2 separate regions of the Homo sapiens genome follow, and region 1 is linked to region 2. Evidence: fine-mapped expression QTL. A gene starts in region 2. The other region holds a variant in brackets. All regions are shown on one strand. Distances are from middle to middle. Region 1 has its middle 28 kb from the start of OCLN. Region 2 holds the start of OCLN (occludin).

What was found. PIP is the estimated chance that this variant, and not a neighbour inherited with it, causes the effect.
Region 1: its variant is fine-mapped to the expression of OCLN in whole blood (TOPMed, PIP 0.93).

Annotation. Positions count from the first base shown.
Region 1 is chr5:69,460,633-69,469,053 of GRCh38, forward strand. No RefSeq gene overlaps it. Among named protein-coding and RNA genes, the nearest start is that of OCLN, 28 kb to the right of the region's middle. RefSeq lists a silencer at 1,948-2,116. The variant G/A (reference allele first, on the strand shown) is at 4,360.
Region 2 is chr5:69,488,692-69,496,954 of GRCh38, forward strand. OCLN (occludin) reads left to right here and starts at 4,099. Exons shown (of 9, transcript NM_001205254.2): 1 at 4,099-4,209.

The sequences.
Region 1 (8,421 bases), 28 kb before region 2:
GCGCCTGTCATTCTAGCTACTCAGGAGGCTGAGGAAGGAGAATCTCTTGAACCCAGGAGGCAGAGGTTGCAGTGAGCTGAGATCACATCACTGAACTCCAGTCTGGGAGACAGAGCAAGAGTCCGTCTCAAAAAAAAAAAAAAAAAGAATAACAAACTAACACATCTTGAAGTCGAATTCCTTGAAAATTATGGCCTAGAAAGCCTACTTGGCTGGGCCTGATGCTCACGCCTATAATCCCAGCACTTTGGAAGCCGAGGCAGGTGGATCACCTGAGGTCAGGAGTTTGAGACCAGCCTGACCAACATGGAGAAACCCCATCTCTATAAAAATACAAAAATTAACTGGGCGTGGTGGCACGCACCTGTAATCCCAGCTACTCAGGAGGCTGAGGCGGGAGAATCGCTTAAACCTGGGAGGCGGAGGTTGCAGTGAGCCGAGATCATGCTATTGTACTCCAGACTGGGCAACAGAGCGAGACTCCGTGTCAAAAAAAAAATGCTCATGCAAATGAGCATCACAAAAATTATACAGTTGGCTAAAGGAAACACCAAATTGATAATAATGAAGCTAAACTAATAATTGACATTTTAAAGGAAAGACTAAGCCAAGCTAATACCTAACGAGCTGTCTGAGTCAACACATAAAGTACTGATAACATACCTATCTAACTAGAAAATTGAGGAATCCCAAGGATGTAGGTATTTGCATAGTGGGAGCTTCACATAGTTACCAGCAATTCAACTTTTCAACTTTTCTTTCCTTTTTTTGAGACGGTGTCTCACTCTGTTGCCCAGACTGGAGTGCAGTGGCATGATCTCAGCTCACTGTAACCTCCACCTCCTAGGTTCAAGCAATTCTCCTGCCTCAGCCTCCCGAGTAGCTGGGATTCCAGGCGCCCGCCACCACACCCGGCTAATTTTTGTATTTTTAGTAGAGACAGGGTTTCACCATGTTGGTCAGGCTGGTCTTGAACTTCTGACCTCAAGTGATCTGCCCACCTCGGCCTCCCAAAGTGCTAGGATTTCAGGCATGAGCCACCACACCCGGCCAGCTCAACTTTTCAGTACAATGCCAAATCAATTCCTCTGTCAACTTAAGTGCTAATACCCCAGGGTTTTAGTTTTTGTTTTTGTCTTAGAAACGGGGTCTTACTATGTTGTCCAGGCTGGTCTTGAACTCCTGGGCTCAAGTGATCTTCCCAGCTTGGCCTCCCAAAGTGCTGGGATTGCAGGCATGAGCCACCACAGCCGGCCTAATACCCTAGGTGTTGGATAGCAAAGACATGTTATCCTTAGTAACTCCTGAAGAAAGTTACTAGGAGTCCTTAGTGCAATATAAAAATTTACTTACAGAAAAGAAAAAACTGCTGCATTGGTTCATAAGAACCAAGGAAAGCACTTCCAATTTGGAATCAGTGGGCTGCCCCTTGGGAGGTGCACTCGGAGAACATAAAGCTAACCCCGAGAAGGATGAGGGAGGTGCGTCCTCCAAGATTTTGAAATCTGAGTGTACAATGTGAGGAGAGGGAGCAGAGGTTGTAAGAGGAGAGGGATGACTCCACAGATCCTTTGAGAGAGAGGAAAGTGATCTACATTTTCTCAGCAAAAGCAGAGCTATCTTCAGCCAAGTTAGAAAGACTGTGAGGACCAGGGCAGTTTGAGATTTATGAAGTGCCCTTTAAAATTTTTAATTTTTTTAAATTTTTATTTATTTATTTATTAAAATTTAAAATTAAACAATTTAAAAACTTTTAAATTTTAAAAATTTAAAAAGTATTTTTGGCTCTTGAGGAATTTTCTGCTGCATTAAAGACAAGGGAATATTTACATTTAAATAACAACTCAAGAAATACTAAGGCAGGGCACAGTGGCTCACATCTGTAATTCCTGCATTTATGGGAGGCCAAGGCAGGAGTTTCGCTTGAGCCAAGAGCTTGAGACCAGTGTGGACAACAGAGCAAGACCTGGCTCTACAAAAAATGTTTTAAAAATATTAGCCAGAGGCCGGGCGCAGTGGCTCACGCCTGTAATCCCAGCACTTTGGGAGGCTGAGGCGGGTAGATCACAAGGTCAGGAGTTCAAGACCAGCCTGACCAACATGGTGGAACCCCATCTCTACTAAAAATACAAAAATTAGCTGGGCGTGGTGGCGTGCACCTGTAATCCCAGCTACTTGGGAAGCTGAGACAGAAAAATCGCTTGAACCCGGGAGGCGGAGGTTGCAGTGAGCCGAGATGGCACCACTGCACTCCAGCCTGGGCAACAAAGCAAGACTCCATCTCAAAAATATATATATATATGAAATATATAATATATATAATATATTATATGAATATATAATATATATATTATATGAAATATATAATATATATATTATATGAATATATAATACATATACTATATTATATGAAATATATAATACATATACTATATTATATGAATATATAATACATATACTGTATTATATGAATATATAATACATATACTGTATTATATGAATATATAATACATATACTGTATTATATGAATATATAATACATATACTGTATTATATGAATATATAATACATATACTATATGAATATATAATACATATACTATATTATATGAATATATAATACATATACTATATTATATGAATATATAATACATATACTATATTATATGAATATATAATACATATACTATATTATATGAATATATAATACATATACTATATTATATGAATATATAATACATATACTATATTATATGAATATATAATACATATACTATATTATATGAATATATAATACATATACTATATTATATGAATATATAATACATATACTATAGTATATGAATATATAATACATATACTATAGTATATGAATATATAATACATATACTATAGTATATGTATATAATACATATACTATAGTATATGTATTATATATTCATATAATATATTATATATATATTCATATAATATATTATATGTATATAATACATATATTATATGTATATAATACATATATTATATGTATATAATACATATATTAGATGTATATAATACATATATTAGATGTATATAATACATATATTAGATGTATATAATACATATATTAGATGTATATAATACATATATTAGATGTATATAATACATCTAATATATTAGATGTATATAATACATATAATATATTAGATGTATATAATACATATAATATATTAGATGTATATATTAGCCAGATGTGGTGGAGCAAGCCTGTAGTCCCAGCTACTCTGGAGGCTGAGGCAGGAGGCAGAAGGATCACTTGAGCCCAGGAGTTCCAGGTTGCAGTGAGCCATGATCTCACCACTGCCCTCCAGCCTGGGCAACAGAGCAAGATCCTGTGAAAGAAAGAGAGAAAGAGAGAGAGAGACAGAATGAGAAAGAGAAGGAAGTACTATACTTTTACATGTATATAGTCCTTAGTCCTTATCATTTTTTTTTTTTTAAGATGGAGTCTTGCTCTGTCACCCAGGCTGGAGTGCAGTGGCACAATCTCGGCTCACTGCAACCTCCACCTCCCAGTTTCAAGTGATTCTCCTGCCTCAGCCTCCCGAGTAGCTGGGACTACAGTTGCCCACCACCATGCCTGGCTAAGTTTTTGTATTTTTAGTAGAGACGAGGTTTCACCATGTTGGTCAGGATGGTCTCGATCTCTTGACCTCGTGGTCCACCCGGCTTGGCCTCCCAAAGTGCTGGGATTACAGGCGTGAGCCACCGCTCCCGGCCCTATCCTTTCTTAAATACTTTCACATAACTCATCTCAGGATTGACAGACCTTGATAGCGCCTTAAATCCTGGAGAGAGAGAATTCTGAAGAGGCTACAATAGGATGGAATAGTCAGAACATTTTTGAAAAAAAACAGGTAAGACTGCAACCAGGCATGGTGGTTCATGCCTGTAATACCAGCATTTTGGGAGAACAAGGCGGGAGGATCACTGTAACCCAGGAGTTCAAGGCTGTGGTGAGCTATGATCACACCACGGCCCTCTAGCCTGGGTGACAGAGTCAGACTCCGTCTCTAAAAAAATAAAAATAAGGCCAAGGCGGGCGGATCATCTGAGGTCGGGAGTTCAAGACCAGCCTGACCAACATGGAGAAACCCTGTCTCTACTAAAAATACAAAATTAGCTGGGTGTGGTGACGCATGCCTGTAATCCCAGCTACTCGGGAGGCTGAGGCAGGAGAATTGCTTGAACCCGGGAGGCAGAGGTTGCGGTGAGCCGAGATCACGCCATTGCACTCCAGCTTGGGCAACAAGAGCATAACTCTGTCTCAAAAATAAATAAATATTAAAAAATAAAAATAGGCCGGGGTGCAGTGGCTCAC[G/A]CCTGTAATCTCAGCACTTTGGGAGGCCAAGGTGGGTGGATCACGTGAGGTCAAGAGTTCAAGACCAGCCTTCCCAACATGGTGAAACCCTGTCTCTACTAAAAATACAAAAATTAGCCAGGTGTGGTGGCGTGCCCCTGTAATCCCAGCTACTCAGGTAGCTTAGGTGGGAGAATTGCTTGAACCCAGGAGGTGGAGGCTGCAGTGATCCGAGATCTTGCCGCTGCACTCCAGCCTGGGTGACAGAGCAAGACCCCATCAAAAAATAATAATAAATAATAATAAATAAAAATAAAGGTAAACAAATATCTCATTTAAGTTTACTCTGTTACCTAATATATTAGAAAGTCTTATCTTAAAGTTTTGTTGTCTTGAATCTTTTCTGTGGGGTCATAATTAAAATAAATCTTCCAACCCCTAAGTAAGTTCATATCTCCTATTGTTCAGGTAAGATAATTTTGAAGTCAACAGATTGTTGCTCTCTTACCTGACACAGCTGGGATCAGTAATTAGAATGTCAATTCAAAAAAGTAGATTAAAGCTAAACATCAAAAAGTGACATATGGGTGCCATAGTTTGTCTTAATTTTTTTTCATTTTTCATTTTTCATTAATTAATTTTTTTTAGAGACAGAGTCTCGCTCTGTTACCCAGGTTGGAGTGCAGTGGTGTGAACACGGCTCACTGCAGCCTTGACCTTGTGGGATTAAGTGATCCTCCCACCTCAGGATCCTGAGTAGCTAGGACCACAGGTGTGTGCCACCACGCCTGGCTAATTTTTAATTTTTTCATAGAGAGGGGGTCTTGCCATGCTGCCCAGGCTGGTCTCAAACTCCTGGGCTCACAGGATCCTCCAGCCTCAGCCTCCGAAAGTGTTGGGATTACAGGCGTGAGCCACCCTACCTAGCCAACATTTTTTTTTTCTAAAGCAACATCATTATGAGTCTTTTAACAATTAACTTGATTTTTATAGAAATACCTTTTTGTTTGTTTGTTTGTTTGTTTGGGACAGAGTCTCACTACGTCGCCCAGGCTGGAGTGCAATGGTGCGATCATAGCTCACTGTAACCTCTCCCTCCCAGGTTCAAAAGATTCTCCTGCTTCAGCTTCCTGAGTAGCTGGAATTACAGGTGCATGCCACCACACCTGACTAATTTTTGTATTTTTAGTAGAGACAGGATTTCATCATGTTGGCCTGGCTTGTCTCAAACTCCTGACCTCGTGATGCACCCACCTCCACCTCCCAAAGTGCTGGGATTACAGACATGAGCCACCGTGCCCAGCCTAGAAACACCTTTCTGTTGGGGTCATCATATTTTATTTTATGTTATTTGTGTGGTTTTTGTTTGTTTGTTTTTATGGCAGGGTCTCACTCTGTAGCCCAGGCTGGAATGCAGTGGCATTGAGAATTGAAGCCAGCTGGGCTTCTGGGTTGGGTGGGAACTTGGAGAACTTTTCTGTCTAGCTAGAGGATTGTAAACACACCAATCAGCACTCTGTGTCTAGCTAAAGGTTTGTAAACACACCAATCAGTACTCTAAATATGCACCAATCAGCGCTCTGTGTCTAGCTAAAGGTTTGTAAATGCACCAATCAACACTCTGTAAAAATGCACCAATCAGTGCTCTGTGACTAGCTAAAGGTTTGTAAACACACCAATCAGCACTCTGTAAAAATGGACCAATCAGCACTCTGTAAAATGGACCAATTAGCACTCTGTAAAATGGACCAATCAGCAGGACGTTGGCAGGGCCAAATAAGGGAATAAAAGCTGGCCACCGGAGCCAGCAGCAGCAACCAGTTCGGGTCCCCTTCCAGGCTGTGGAAGGTTTGTTCTTTTGCTCTTCACAATAAATCTTGCTGCTGCTCCCTCTGGGTCCGCACTACCTTTATGAGTTGTAACACTCACTGCGAAGGTCTGCAGCTTTGCTCCTGAAATCAGTGAGACCACGAACCCACCGGGAGGAACAAACAACGCTGGATGCGCCACATTTAAGAGCTGTAACACTCACTGCGAAGGTCTGCAGCTTCACTCCTGAAGTCAAGCTAGACCACGAGCCCACCGGAAGGAAGAAACTCTGGACATATCTGAACATCTGAAGGAACAAACTCCGGACACACTACGTGTAAGAACTGTAACACTCACCACGAGGGTCTGCAGCTTCATTCTTGAAGTTAGCGAGACCAAGAATCCACCGTAAGGAACCAATTCCGGACACAGCATGATCTCAGCTCACTGCAACCTCCACTTCCCAGGTTCAAGTGATTCTCCTGCCTCAGCCTCCTGAGTAGCTGGGTTTACAGGTGCATACGATCATGCCTGACTAATTTTTGTGTTTTTGGTAGAGACGGGGTTTCACCATGTTGGCCAGGCTGGTTTTGAACTGCTGACCTCAGGTGATCCACCCACTTTGGCCTATCCAAGTACTGGGATTATAGGCCTGAGCCACAGCAGCTGGCCCGCATCATATTTTATCATTTAAATAATATTTAATTAAATCATACACATACGTACACACATGTAGTAGCAAGTACAAGTGGGAATAACAGGTTTAGGTACAACACAACTATTGCTAACCACCCATCTCCACTATTGAGAGCAGAAGTAGTGTTCTCTAGAAACAGGCCTTCTAGGGTGCTGAGGTCATCATAAGATGCTTAAACTGAGCTTGTATGTTTCAGAATTAGCTGATATTTTTTAAATGGTCTCTTATTAAGTAAATAACTATCAAATTTCATAAGATATGAATTTGAGGACTGAAACTGTATTAGTCAGAACGGCTTTGGTTTCTAATAACAGAAACTCAAATCAGCTTATGCATACAAGGGACTCTTTTGAATTAGAGAACTGAGAAGTTTAGGAGCTGACTTGGCTTCAGGGTTCCCTTTCAGTCTGTTTCTCTCATCTTCACTGCTTCTCACAGCATATTTAGTCTCATGCTGTCATGTTTAGACTTTCTCTGTGTAACTGCGGAAGATGCCTGGTGTCAGCTCCAGTACATAAGCACGTAGTGGGTTACAGGGAAGTGGCTCTCTTCCAGCAGCTTTCTATCATGTCTCTGGAAGCGTCTGATAGGTCTTGGTTTGGGTTATGTGTCCATCTTTGAACCTATCACCACATCAGATGAGGCAGCCTGGATCTCATATCCGCTAATGTGTGGGCAGAACACAATCCCGTCAGGACCTCATGGAATGGAAGAAAGATAAGGTTTTTTTTTCTTTTTCTTTTTCTTTTTTTTTTTTTGAGATGGAGTCTCACTCTGTTGCCTAGGCTGGAGTGCAGTGGTGCGATCTTGGCTCACTGCAATCTCTGCCTCCCGGGTTCACGCCATTCTCCTGCCTCAGCCTCCAGAGTAGCTGGGACTACAGGCGCCTGGCACCACGCCTGGCTAATTTTTTTGTATTTTTAGTAGAGACGAGGTTTCACCGTGTTAGCCAGGATGGTCTTGATCTCCTGACCTCGTGATGCACCCACTTGACCTCCCAAAGTGCTGGGATTACAGGCATGAGCCACTGCGCTGGGCTGAAGAAGGGTGAGTTATAAATGAAAAGCTGCATGTGTGCTCTAATAGAAGCTAGACATGCAAAAACCACAGATGCCTCCAGCATAGACCATGCTTTTGTTACCATAATAGCAGGTATTCAGTCTAAGTCCTGCTCCTCATAGCACAGAAAACCAATCACTGAGACAATGAGTATTGCCAAGGAAGAAAGCTTTAATTGGGTGCTGCAGCTGAAGACATGGGAACTAGTCTCAAATTCATCTCCTGACTGACTATAATTAGGGGTTAATCTAGCAGGGAAGAAATGTAACTATGCATGGGAAAACAGGAACTCAACTTGAGAGGGGTAAGGAAGCAATCATGATGAATGAAGGGCCTGGTGTCTCATTGTCTGGATGCAACGATCTGGTGAGTTTCAGTTCTTTTTCTTCAGGTACTTTTTGAGAGGCTTTTGAGGGTCCTTTCCTGAGGAAGGAACTCAGATAATACAAATGTAAGGTTCAAGCTTAAGACCAGAACTGTCTATGGGACTATTGAGTTGGTTTCACCTTAGCTATTCT
Region 2 (8,263 bases):
GTTAGTATCACCTGAGGTCAGGAGTTCGAGACCAGCCTGACCAACAAGGTGAAATCCCATCTCTACTGAAAATACAAAAATTAGCCAGGCGTGGTGGCAGGTGCCTGTAGTCCCAACTATTCAGGAGGCTGACATAGGAGAATCATTTGAACCCAGGAGGCGGAGGTTGCAGAGAGCTGATCACACCATTGCACTCCAGCCTGGGCTACGGAGGAGACTCTGTTTCAAAACAAACAAACAGAAAACCAAAAAAACACTTAGCATAGTACTTAGAACATGTTTTTCCCTGAGTAAATGGTGCTATTATTATTCTTCCACCTGTTGAAGTTCCTGTTCAGGTGCTGAGTCTCTTTGTTTAAATATGGATTCCTCCCAGGAGGATCTTGCTTAACACATAGGAATAGAGAAGATAAAGGTTTACTCATCTAGTGTAATCATCCTTTTAGAAATTGTCTTCCTAGTGGCTTCCCCATAAATTCTTCCATACACCTGTCCAAGGAAACTGTCCTGTGTGGACCAGAAGCCTCCCCCTCCTCATGACTGGGCAGAGAAACTAGAGGCCTTTCAGGCCAGGCCCTCAGCAACTCCAAACTGAGTTGCCTTGGACACATACCAGTCTTTGAATTCATTTACTAAGCAGGCAAGGCAGAGTGGAAACAGTGGAACTATGTTAATCTCCCGTCTTTTCTCCTCTAAACCCTAGTACTAGAGATGTAAGCCTTGAAATGCTACTAAGGAACGTGCGGGTTTCACAATAGCAGGAGGCCATCTGAGAGGAGGACAAGACTCCACAGGCATGTTGGATTTGGGAAGCAGGGCTATAGTCATTCATTCATTCATCCAACACATAGTTATGTAATTCCTATGTGACAGGAACTATTTCAGGCATATAGGATACAGCAATGGCTTGCTCAATTTATTGAGACTTGTTTCGTGGCTCAGCATATAGTCTGTCTTGGTGAATGCTCCACATTCCCACCAACAGACTTATAAAGACAGTATTGTTTATTATCATCTCAAATTTACGGTGGAAAAAAATGAACCTTACATAGTTTAATTTCCTTTAGTCCTACCCAGCTACCAAGTAGCAACACTGGAATTTGAACTGAGATTTCTGACACCATAATCTGAGCTCTTAAGTTTCTCTTTTACACATAGAAAAGGAGAAACAAATTGTCTTTTCATCTTATCCATTTGACTGCAGGTAAAGTCAACAAGTTTCTAATCATGGGGTTCTGAAAATAATATTTACATTGCTCTGAGTCACGGGGATTTTCATCAAATAATATTCAATAGTGGATACTACTCAATACTACTGTGAGTTGCCAAGAAGGAATATTTGGTAAAAAATATAGTAATTAAATTTTGCTATAATTTATGATTATGTAACATGATTAAATTGAGCATGGCATCATTTAACATCCAACAAATTTTGTTTTGGTATTGAAGAATGATGTGTTTAAGTTTTAAGGCTGGATTTTCTTTCTAGACACTTTCAACTATGAAATATACACAATATTGGACAATAGTTAACCGTTCTTTTGATGTTGTTGTTTAGAAAATTAATCTCAAGCGAATAAAATAGAATTCATACAATTAATGAATCCTATTATTCCATATGGATGAACTCAGAACTAACTAGAAAGTAAGTTTCACAGAGATTTTTGAGTTTTGTTCACTCGTGTGTGTACAGATTAGGCACTCAGAAAATAGTTGAAGGAATGAATTGGGAAAGCAAATAGAATATGAAAGCCTTCTACCCAACACAACATGTCTTTGAGTTTAGGTTTAGGGTGGGAATAAGAAAAATAACATGATATGCATAAGTTATCTTAAAATGATAAAAAGTTTAATTTAAAAACCTAATTTACCAAGAGAACCGAAAACATATGTCCACACAAAAACTTGTACACAAATGTTCATAGTAACATTATTCATAACATCCCCAAAGGAGAAACAACCCAAATGTTCATCAACAGATGAATGATTAAACGAAATGTGATACATCGATACAATGGAATATTATTCAGTTATAAAAAGGAATGAAGTACCAATACATACTACATCATGGATGAACCTTTAAAATATTATGCTAAGTGAAAGAAGACAGACACAAAGGGCACATATTGTATTATCCATTCATATAAAATGTCCAGAATAGGCAAATTAATAGAGACAGAAAGTACATTAGTGGTTGCCGAGGGATGAGGGGAGAGGGGAAATGGGGAGTGACTATTAATGGGCATGGGGTTTCTTTTGGGGGCGATTAAAATGGAATTAGATGGTGGTGATGGTTGTACAATCTGGTGAGTATACTAAAACCCACTGAATTGTACGTGCCCTTTAAAAGGGTGAATTTTATGGTATGTGAACTCTCTTTTATAAAGTGGAAAAAAACTCCTAAGATCTCTTCAGAACATGTCAAAATACATTATAAAATAATAGACATGTGTTTACAAATCTGAGAGTATTAGGAAATGTTCCCTTGTTTAATTATAAACCAAATGGAATGTTTGGAGATTTCAGTAATCTGACAGGGAACATTAAGGGGATTAACCTGACTTCCCCAGTGTTAACAATACCAATTTAAACTGCATCATTCAAAAACTACATAGTCATATTAAAGCATTTGTAGCAATGACTTCCACGAAAAAAATACCAATTAAATTAATTACCCATTAAAGCTGCCATCATCTGAAATACCTCATATTTATATAGTGCTTTTACTTCCTCAAGTATGAATTGTGCCTTAAGATCTAATGTATGGGAGAGTCACATCTCTAACCATTTAATTAAAGGTAGAGAAGTGGGTGGGATTGGATAGAAATTTATTAGCAATGCTGACATTCCAGATTGGAACACAAAGACAAGCAGGATGTAAGAAACCTAAAAGTTCGCTTTCAATGCAGATAGTTAAATGCCAAGAACTATAATTGCCACATCCTGGAGTACAATTAAAAAATATGTTGAAAAACAACCAACATACATAAAAATATACACAGTGTTAAGTGCAGACTATGAAATTTCCCTTGGAAACAGAATCCAGATCAAGAAATAGAATACAGCACCCGGAACTAAGGTGCTTTTTCGTTTTCTTAAAAAAAAAAAAAAAGTAAACCAAGTTTATTTTGCTTTTTAAGTAGTGTTGTTCTTAAAGCACTACAGGTTGGTAAACAACGTATAAGGTGCTTTTTCTCAGGCCAAAGAGCCATAATAGTTTAAATTTCCCGGTCCTCAAGAGCGGACCGGGTGGGCAGGAGAGGACCCTGGGGTGGTGATGTGTAAACTGTATTATGCACTTTAGCCTGCTGGATGGCAACTAACACCTACAGTAGTTCACCCTCATTTTAACCCCTCTAAGTAATTGTCTCTTATTCTGAATCTAGAGATTCAGAAACAGCGCCAATGTTTACACACGACTTTTGAAATTTTCCCAGGAGTCTTTCGTTGGAGCAATACATCTAGATGCCTTTTTCCAGCAACAGTTTAATCAAATTCTGGAAGCAGAAAAGTGTCCTGTGAGGACGTGCCTTTCCTATCAAAGTGCTGAGTGCCTGGACCCTCTTTCCGGAGGAAACAGTCCCCTCTGGACCTCGTTCGGCCTCTCTCCATCAGACACCCCAAGGTTCCATCCGAAGCAGGCGGAGCACCGAACGCACCCCGGGGTGGTCAGGGACCCCCATCCGTGCTGCCCCCTAGGAGCCCGCGCCTCTCCTCTGCGCCCCGCCTCTCGGGCCGCAACGTCGCGCGGTTCCTTTAACAGCGCGCTGGCAGGGTGTGGGAAGCAGGACCGCGTCCTCCCGCCCCCTCCCATCCGAGTTTCAGGTGAATTGGTCACCGAGGGAGGAGGCCGACACACCACACCTACACTCCCGCGTCCACCTCTCCCTCCCTGCTTCCTCTGGCGGAGGCGGCAGGAACCGAGAGCCAGGTCCAGAGCGCCGAGGAGCCGGTCTAGGACGCAGCAGGTGGGACTCGCGGCGCTGGCCCGCAGGCTTCCCGCACCCCCTTCCACGTTGGTGCGCATGCCCGGGGGCAGGGCCGGTTGTAGGGAGGAGGGAAAGGAGAGGGAGAAGGGGGAGGAGACGTCCCCAGCCCAGTCCCCGGCTGAGCGCTGGCGGTCGGTGCGGCGTCAGGTGCGCCCGCCAGGTGAGCGCGCTCCCTGGCACCGTTGGCCCCCGGAGGGTCGGGCCCAGTTGCGGCGAGCGGGTGAGTGTTGGGCGCGGCGTCAGGGGCGCACGGGAGCCCGAGGGTCCCCGTGGGGGGACCGCGGCGACTATGTTAGGGGAGGTGCCGGGGGGAGGACGCTCCGCGCTGGTTTCGGTGGCAGTTTCGTCCCCGAGCTGGGACTCGTGGGAACCAGAGAGGCGCGGGTCTGCGGAGAGAGCAGCACCGGCCAACTTGGGAGGCTGCCTCCTGGGGCGAGGGGTGGCTTGGAGCCGCCGATCAAGCTTTATTCCGCGGAAACGCTGAAAGCTAGCAGTGCCTCAGCGGCGCGGGCAACTTTTCACTTTTATGGGGCACGACATTCCTGAACAGCGACGATCCTGCATCCGCTCTGGGGCTGCAGTTTGGGGGGGCGGCCTTCATGGAGAGGGATCCTGCGCCCAGCTCCTTGGGGGTCCTAAGCCTGAGGCTGCAGCGAGGCGGCTGTTCGGCGGCCCGGGCGGCTTAGATCCCGGGGGGAATTTCATTCCTTCCGCTCCCACCCCACCCCTTTGGATATCCCGGGGAGACGGGGGCTGGATTCAATCTGTGAAATATTCCAGGAGTCACGGTGTGGGCCACACTGGCTACTTCGAATCCACTTGTTGCGAGTTGTGTGAACCCGCGTCGATTTAAGCTGGGGGGCGGGGAGTTAATTTCGAGTGAGGCTGGACTTCGAGGGAAGCTGCTCACGCTTCGGATTCTCATCCGTGACCAAAAGGGCTGCCCCCAGGGGGGCGGAACTGCCTCCGGGCGGTGCCTGCCCGGCGAACGTGGGCGCGCGCTGCCTGGGAGCGCCTCGGTGCGCACGGAAGCCGGGACCCGCGCCCAGCCGGGCCACGGAGTTTGGGGACCTCCGGGACTGGGCCGGCCCCGCGCGCCAGCCATGTTGCCTGCGTCGGAGGAAGCGTGCGGGGAGCAGGGGTCGAGGGCCAAGATGGCCTCTGCGCCTAGGGGTTGGGAGCGGCGCCGAGCCCCTCGCGCTCCTCGGGAAGCCACCGGGCCCGAGGGAAAAGCCGCGGCATCCTTAGGCCGGACCCGGGGCTCGCTGGCCACACTGCCCGCTTGGGGAATTACCCTGCTCGAGGAGGAGGCGGCGGCTTTCCAGGCCAGTCAGTGTGTGGCCCTTAGGCAACAGGTGTATTATTGGGATACCTGGAAAAGAGAAACGTTTCCCATGAAGGCACTTATGGTGTTTTTTGGTGATTCTTGGTGTGATAGAAAACTAGGCGTTCCCAAGTGTAACAATAGTAACAGTAGTTCTTTTGCACTGTACATATGAGGTGCTTGTGTGTGTGTGTGTGTGTGTTTTTCCGAGACGGAGTCTGGCTCTGTCCCCCAGTGCAGTGGCATCATCTGGGCTCACTGCAACCTCTGCCTCCCGGGTTCAAGCGATTCTCCTGCTCAGCCTCCCGAATAGCTGGGATTACAGGCACCCACTAGTATGCACAGCTAATTTTTGTATTTTTAGTAGAGACAGGGTTTTGCCATTTGGTCAGGCTGGTCTCGAACTCCTGACCTCAGGTGATTCGCCCGCCTTGGCCTCCCAAAGTGCTGGGATTACAGGCGTAAGCCACCACACCCAGCCTTTATGAATATTTTCTTAGTGGTGCTTTAAAATAGACATCTTAAGTGTGTGTGGGAGGCAGAGATATTTCCTCAAACAAAGCAACACTTTTTTTTTGGTCGTTTTGCAATTTATTTAGTTATTAGGGGCCTCCTTTGTTAGGTGACGGAGCAGAGGATAGGGAGATCGGTAAGACATGATTCTCCACCTTTTGGCAGTTTCCAGGCCATTTCGGGAAATAGTGGGCAGCAGTGCCTCCTGCACGTGAGGCACTGTGGTAAAAGCATTCTGTATTTTCTCATTTAATTATCCCAACAACTCTAAAAGGCAGGCCTTAGTAGAACTCCATTTTAAAAGTGGGCAAATGCCGTGGGGGAAACGTTGCAGGTGGGCTTGCTTGCAAACTGCTTCAGCTAATATGGGAAGGAGTATCAGAAGCAGCGGTCCTTGATATTCCAGAACCAGATTTGGGGAATTTTTCTGGACTTTTCTACCATTGACTAGTAACTGTAGCCTGATACAAGATTTCCCGCATTTTGCTTGATATCAAGGTAAAATTCTTGTTTTCTTCTAAAGGTAGTGTTGGAATTACTACCTTTTCAAAATAGTATATTACTTTTAACCACATAAATGATCTGATGTAATATCTTTCATCTTCCTAGGAACCTCCCAGAAGGAAGTTTTCTTCAGTTGCATTTTAAGGCTTATTTGATTGGAATATTAATGGATCTTTTTCATCAAATTACTATTTATGGAAATAAGAGAGTAAACAGACCATGCAGATTTATGTTAGGCTTTTTGTTTTAACCCCTAGGCTTGCCGCTGTTCCGTAACCCAGTGATTCCAGTCTTGGCTGTGGTATGAATCACTTAGGGATCCTATTAAAACACAGATTCTGATTGGGAGGTCAGGAGTGGGGCCTGGGATTCTGCCTTTCTAACAGGCTCACAGGTGATTCTCAGACTGTTCTGTCTTCTTTTTCTCCCTTTCTCTTAGACTCTACGCACTTAATTACATTTGACAAACTGAAGTTGGAAAAAATAACGTTTATTGAGTGTTGTGTGAAGAACTTCAAGGCATTCACTGCTGGATTGAAATCCCAACTCTAATAATTGACTGTTGGTTTTATTAATTGAGTACTCATTGACAATCACTTTGTGCCAGGGCTAGTTCCAGCGACCAGGGATATAAATGATGGTCAAAATAGACATTTGATGTCTGGGATATGGGCATTCCAGATGCGGTGGAGATGATACCTATATTTTAGGTATGAGGGCAGAGGGGAGTTTGCTCTGAAAAAAAAAACAAGTTTTGTGTGATGGAGTGAGGGACAGGGAGGGCATCTCCCAGAAGGTGACGTCTGAGCTGAGACCTGAACAGCAGGTGTCTGTTGTGTAAAAGATCTGGGCTTTCTAGACAGGAAATTGCAAGATCAATGTCCTTTTTGGATTGACACCTTTATTGTAGACAGCAATTCTCAAAATATGTGATGTGTTTAAAAATCACCTGGAAGATTTATTAAAAATACAATTTCTGACACAGAGTCTATTACAAAATCTGCCTAACTTCAAATTTTTAGACAATTTACTAATGATGTGCCTGTAGTCTAAATCATTTAATATAAGGCACAACTTAAACTTTTTTTTTTTTTTTTGAGACAGAGTCTCGCTGTCTCCCAGGCTGGAGTGCAGTGGCACGATCTTGGCTTACTGCAAGCTCCGCCTCCCGGGTTCACACCATTCTCCTGCCTCGGCCTCCCGAGTAGTTGGGACTACAGGCGCCTGCCACCATGCCCAGCTAATTTTTTGTATTTTTAATAGAGGCGGGGTTTCACTGTGTTAGCGGGGATGGTCTCGATCTCCTGACCTCGTGATCCTCCCGTCTCGGCCCCCCAAAGTGCTGGGATTACAGGCGTGAGCCACCGCGCCCGGCCACAACTTAAACTTTTTAAAGGCAAATTGACAGTTACTGCATGTGCTCTAAAAGGAACAGACTTCTCTTAAATACAATAAAGTTTATTTTTCACTTATTGACAGTTTTCTTTAAAGAATAATTTGAGGCCAAAGCATTTTCAGACTATTTTTTCTTTTTTTATACTTTTTTTTTTTTTTTTTTTTTAAGATAGATAACGGAGTCTTACTCTGTTGCCCAGCCTGATCTTGAAGTTCTGGGCTCAAACAATCCCTCTGCCTTGGCTTCCCAAAGTACTGGGATTACAAGTGTGAGCCACCTTGCCCAGCCTCAGCCTGTTTTTTTCATCTTAGCTTAGTTTTCCATTAAGACAGCTTTTGGTCAGTAAACATTGTCAAGGGGAGAACACTTTATATTTTATCATTAGCCCAAGATGCTGGTTTTCAGATTAACATATTTGACAAGGATCTATCTGCTGCTTCCCTTTTGCCCCCGACTCTAATTTAGCTGTCTGACTTCTGTCCTTGTCACTCTCCTGACATAAGTTCCTGTAGGTGATAAGTGGCCTCTTCATTCTCA